2 separate regions of the Homo sapiens genome follow, and region 2 is linked to region 1. Evidence: fine-mapped expression QTL. A gene starts in region 1. The other region holds a variant in brackets. All regions are shown on one strand. Distances are from middle to middle.

The links. PIP is the estimated chance that this variant, and not a neighbour inherited with it, causes the effect. A credible set is the group of variants that fine-mapping cannot tell apart.
Region 2: its variant is the best candidate, but not a certain one, in a credible set for the expression of FAM184B in prefrontal cortex (BrainSeq, PIP 0.72).

The regions. Positions count from the first base shown.
Region 1 is chr4:17,779,972-17,782,877 of GRCh38, reverse strand. FAM184B (family with sequence similarity 184 member B) reads left to right here and starts at 1,257. Exons shown (of 18, transcript NM_015688.2): 1 at 1,257-1,719. The coding sequence starts at 1,579.
Region 2 is chr4:17,742,665-17,745,570 of GRCh38, reverse strand. The region is part of intron 1 of FAM184B (family with sequence similarity 184 member B); the gene reads left to right. Among named protein-coding and RNA genes, the nearest start is that of FAM184B, 38 kb to the left of the region's middle. The variant A/TGA (reference allele first, on the strand shown) is at 1,110.

The DNA of each region.
Region 1 (2,906 bases):
CCTCAGAGGCTTTGTCTCTGTTTTCTAAAGGAACTGGGGGAGGGAGGGGTTGTGCTAAAAAGAGAACTTAAGATGGTAAATTAGAAATCAAAAACCGAGGCCGGTCATTTGATACAGAATCTAGAATAGGAATGTCTATTTCAGAAACAGTTCTACTTGTAATTGCCTGACTTGGTACAAATTTTCTGGGTCAATTTTCCTCATCGACAAAAATGGGTTTTGTTACCTTCAGTATGGATGGGTGGAACTGTGGTTTCTGAGACCCTTTGAAGCTTGCTTGGTTTATGAAGATTATTAAAATTTCTGATAAAAGGCAATGTATAAATGATATACATTCACTATGCAAACTATCATGAAGACCTATTATTCGAGCTTTAGGAAAAGCTGATCACGGTGCTGTCACTTTCCCTTAAAGTCCACTGTCTGAAACCAGAGAACACGCCAGAAAGAAATTTGGCCCGCTAACCTCTCCCCTCACCAAACACTAAACAGACACCAGCTCAGAATCCGAAAACTTGACAGTCTGGCTCCAGTCTGCCCAAGGCCAGTAGTGTGGATTTGGACGACTCACTTTACTTTCAATGGGCTCGGTTTGCTAAGATTTTCAGTTCCATCTTTTACTCATCTAACTGCTCCATTCCTCTTTGCTTCTTCCTTTCCCGCACCTGCCACCATCCTTTCTACCTCCCTAACGACTTTGTCTTTGCGTTCCTACCGCTTCCCGCATTACCCGTTTCGCACTTTCTCATCTCAGATTTCGGTCACCCGCACCCTGCCATCCCCTTGGCTTCTCCTCTTTGGGCATCTCCGGTATTCCTCCCGCAATGTCCTGGCTCCTCTCCAAGATCCAAAAAGGAAGGCTACCATCCCCAGCCCCGCTGTGCACTCGCGCAACTCAGGCGCTGGCCCACACCGTGCGCCCCGGATCCCACACCTCCTTGAGTCCCGATGGCTCGCCCTCACCTACCCGCCCCTCTCTTAGCATCTCGTCCCCCACCGCCATCTCCGCTATCAGCTCGGAGACTCGGGAGCCGCCAGTCACTGTGCCCTGTCCCTCTCCGGAGGCCGCCAGTCACTGTGCCCTGTCCCTCTCCGGAGGCTCTTCTTCCTCTTTAGCCTGGGATCCCCACCTCGGGCAGGGTCCGTCGCCACCAAGTCCAGGGCCGCGCGCCACCCACGTGTCCAAGAGCGCAGTGCCCGCCCACCGCAAACCCCCCAAGGCCGGCAGCTCCTAGCCGCGGAAGCTCTCCCCTTGCACACGAAACCTGCACTGGCTGGGGAACTGCAGACTGATCGCCAGCGGCACGTGCGGGGCGCCGACGCCTCGCCGCAGGGTGCGGGTGCCCGCGGAGCCAGCCAGCCAGAGAACCAGCAGGAGAGGAAAAAGGGTGGGCGCGCGGGTGGGCCCGGGAGGCGGAGACCTTCGGGAAGCTGGGGCCACGCGGCGGTGCAGGCGACGGGACTGCAGTGCCACCTCTCCCGAGAAACCCACACGCTCGCACGCCCGCGCGCGCACGCACGTGCACACGGTGGGCAGGGAGAAAACGAGAGAGTCTGAGTGCTGGGCGCGTTTTAGCGATGGCTTCTGCTCTCAACAGCAAAATTAACCCGCCCGGCACTTGCCAGGGCTCCAAAGCCGACGGTGGCGCCGGCTGGAGAATGGACTGTGATCCCCAGATGCACGTGAAAATGTGCAAGAAGATCGCCCAGCTCACCAAGGTAAGGTGGGGCGCAGCGGGCCAGCGAGCTGCACGCCCGGGGCGCCCGAGCCGGGAGTCAGTGCGGATGCGCCTCCCGGGAGGCCCGGGCCAAATCCAGACAGAAACTTTGTCTCGGAGGCCAACCGGGAAGGGAAGCGGTCCTAAATCTGGGTGACTTGACCTTCTAGAGGCACCATCCTAAAGCAGCAGAGAAAGAGGATCCTTGCCAAGGAAACTCCCACAGCCTGCTGGCTGGGCAGGTGGTCTGTGCTTTTCCAAGGTGGGAATGTGAATCGTGTGTGTGTGTGTGTCCCCGCCAGCTTTGCTCAAGTGCCTAGAATGTTGTGATTTCATTCAACTGCCATACTTTACAGCTGGGGAGGTCATGTGGGCTCTATTTAAACACTTGATCCATTTATTCCTTCATTCAACAAATATTTGCGTCATTTGTTGAGTGCCAGCAGCTTGCGTGGCACCGTACTAAACCTGGAATGCAGCCTAGGGGACTTACTATCAAACTGGGTGCAGACGTGTGTAGGAGCATAAATGGGGAAGAGCACGATTCACCAAATAACTATGGGATTAGGAAGGACCTAGGGAAGTCAGCCAGCCCACCTCCTTACCTCGTGCAGGGGGCTCTGATTGAACCTTCCCAGACTATGTCTTTTTCAAGAAGACCAGCAAAAAGATGCCACCAGTGCTCTTTGTTAACCCTCTGCAGCTCCCCAATTAGAAGCTCCTTGTCACAGACTCCCCTCTGTGCCTTGTCTAGATGGAAAACAACATCCCTCACTGTCTCCTATACAAGGTTTCAAGTGGATGAATTTAGCTGTTTGCCTTGGGGTTTCCTTTCGGTCTCATAATAAACTCCTGGTGCCATGCCCGCCAGGGAGAGGTCAGGTCCAGGTCTGTCCTGTAGCGTCTGGAACATGCTCTCTTTCCTCACCATCTCCCTCTCACTTCCCACACATTTTTTTGTGGGATCACAGACATTCCCCTCCCCCTGTCCCGCCAACCTCACTATTTTGCCAGGAGGAATAGAGCACAGGGGCTTGGAATTGAACACTAGCCGCCTTCTCCCACCTGTCTCATTAACTTCACATTCTTTGCACGTGAGCCTGTCTCCAAACAGGGCTCTCTTTGGTCAAGGAATGAAAAAAGAGACTGGAGATAGCCCTTAGCGTTCTTGACATGTATAGCTGGTAC
Region 2 (2,906 bases), 37 kb after region 1:
TGGATAGGAGAACCCTCAGACTGCGATACAGCCATGAAAGGGTCTTGGCCAGGCCAGTAAAGTATCCCTGAGCAAAGATCGAACATTCAAGGAGTTTTGTGTTGGGCAGAAATAGCCCGGCCGCGGTACCTAAGGCCGCGGACTTAGTAGTTGGCTAGAAGTAGCTTGGTAAGCGGCAGGGGGAAATCAAGCTTTGTTGTGAATATCACGGCAAATCCAAAGGTGTGAAAGGTATAAGCTGTCACCCAACTATACTCCCCACATCAGGTTCTCTCTAAGGGAGGTCTGAGCGGCCAACCTCCATGGCCACCGCAACATGTTCATGATCACGGTTAGTAGCAGAGCAAGGACTAAAATCTAGTCCAGAATTCTTTCTAGATTATTCTGCAAGGCATTCTCTCTCCAATGCCTGGCCCCATCCCATGGCCCCAAGTTTATAGGTTTGGACTTAATCTTGTGGATGTTAGAGCTAGATGTCAGCCCCCTGAAGGTTAGAGAAGGCAGGACCACTAAGCAGGTCAGAAGAGGAAGGAGAGCGATGCAGAAGGGCTGTAAGGTCTTTGAGGAAAAGCAGCAGCTCCGGCTGAAGAGGTCCCAGTGGCTCTGTGCATCTGCTTACCTGACATGCGTCCTACTGCCTCCTTTAGACAACTCTTCACCTCTTCCAGCTGCCTCTCAATCTCAGCACTCTACTTCCCATCCCAGACCCAAGCTGGCTCTATCAGACTCTTTCTCTAGGTTGATATTCAAGCATTAGGAGAAAGACATTATCTTTTTACTGGAAAAGCAAAACTGTGATAGCAGGAACTAGGGCAGTTGGTGGCTTTTTTCTTTTTTCTTTTTTTTTTTTTGAGATGGAGTCTCGCTCTGTCCCCCAGGCTGGAGTGCAATGGCACCATCTTGGCTCACTGCAACTTCTGCCTCCCGGATTCAAGCTATTCTCCTGCCTCAGCCTCCTGAATAGCTGGGATTACAGGCACATGGCTTTCTTGTTACATGGGAGGAGCAACTCTGCGGAATGAAGACCAGCAGAGATGAGAGGTGAATGGAGAAAGGTGTGTGTGTGTGTGTGTGTGTGTGGTGTGTGTGTGTGTGTGTGTGTGTGTGTG[A/TGA]GAGAGAGAGAGAATGAGTGACTCATGGCACATTGAATCCTAGTCCCAGCCCCCAAGGCCTGCCTCGCGCCTTCAGCTCTTCTACTCCAGGCACTTCCCCAGATGGGTCAATGTGCTCCCTTTTTCTTGGTGTAGTAGGCAGATTTCTAGGATGGCTCATAATTCGCAGCCCCTGGTCTATTGCACCTTCTCCCAGTTATTCAGTCAAGCACTAATCTTGGTATTGCTGTGAAGGGACTTTGCAGTTGTAATTAAGACCCCAAATAAATTGACTTTAAGATAGGGAGATGAGCCAAGCAGATCTGGCTTAATTACACAAGGCCTTCAAACTGAGTCTAGAGATCAGGCATAGAAAAATCAGAAAGATGTGAAATGTGACCAAATGTTAGTGAAGGAGTCAAAGCCGGTGGCCTCTGGAGCTGAGAGCAGTCCCCTGACAGCAGTCTAATAACCACAGGGAACTGAATTAGGCCCACAGCCTGAATTAGCTTGGAAACGGACTTTTCCCCAGAGCCTTCAGATGAGAACTCAGCTGGGCCAACACCACGATTTCCTTTGGTCCTTGAGACCCTGAGTGAAGACCCCAACCCTGCCATACCTAGACTGCTGACATACAGCACGTGTTTTAAGTGGTCAAGTTAGTGGTTGTTTATCAACAATAGAAAACTAATACACTTGGGTAAGACCTGAAGAAGTGTTGACTAAACCAGTGAGGAGAAAATAGTCCTCTTCTACTGCCCTACGCAGACTCTAGAAACTGCTGTTCTTCACTTGGCTTTTCTTGGGTATGAATCTGCTTACAGGAGTATCTGTTGTTGAATAGTGTGATGAAAGAATTTAAAAGCACATTTGGATGAGGACAGAGGGAGCACAAGACGATTCTTGTTTCTGAAGTGGCTGGGGAGGAAGATCACCGCAGGAGTGAAGAGGGAGAGAGGAAAATGGCTGGTGAGAGATGGTGCCTGGGGACCTGGAAAATAAATGTCTCCTCACTGGTCTCCCTGACTAGTCTCCCTGCTTCCACCTGCTCTCAACGCAGCAGCCAGAGTGAACTTTATAACAGGTGAATCAGCTTTGGCACCCTGTTCAAAACTCTCCAGGTCTTCTCATTTCATGAGGAGTGAATCTAAATTCTTCGGTGGCTGACAGATGCCTCCACCACTGGTGCCATCCCTCTTTCCACGAGCTCTCTCCCCACCCCCATCCCAGCCACTCTGGCCTGGTGGATCCATCAACCCACATAGATACTTACACCTCTCATACTTTGCTATTTTTTTGGTGAGGGTGGACAGGGTCTCGATGAGACAGGATAGTTCTCTTGACCTCCTTTGTGGGCAGGAACTGGAGTGGCCCGTTTCACTCAGCCAGCTGCTGGCCACTCCTCACAGGAGGAAGCATGCAAGACAGTAAGTGCGGGAACTGGAGTAAATGGATGCTGGAATGGCCGGCCACTCCTCTCTGGCAGGAGCAAGCTCTGTGGGGCTCCACAGCAGCTCCAAGCATGTATAACCAATGCTTTTTCAGCTCTGCTGTCCAGGGATGGTCAAGTGCCAACCAGCTCAGTGGAGGGTCAGAGTGGCAGCCCCTGTCCTCTTGGCACCCAGGTTCTTGCCCTCTTGGCACCTGGGTTCTTGTCTGGTGTCCAGGAAGAATCAGGTCACATGAACTGTTTGAAAGGTGATGCATGTGGAAGACTTTATTGAGTGATGTGTAGCCCTCAGCAGAAAGGGAGGCTGCCAACGGGATGGGAAGGTGATCTTTCCCTGAAGCCGCACTGTCTGAAGTTAGCTGCATCTA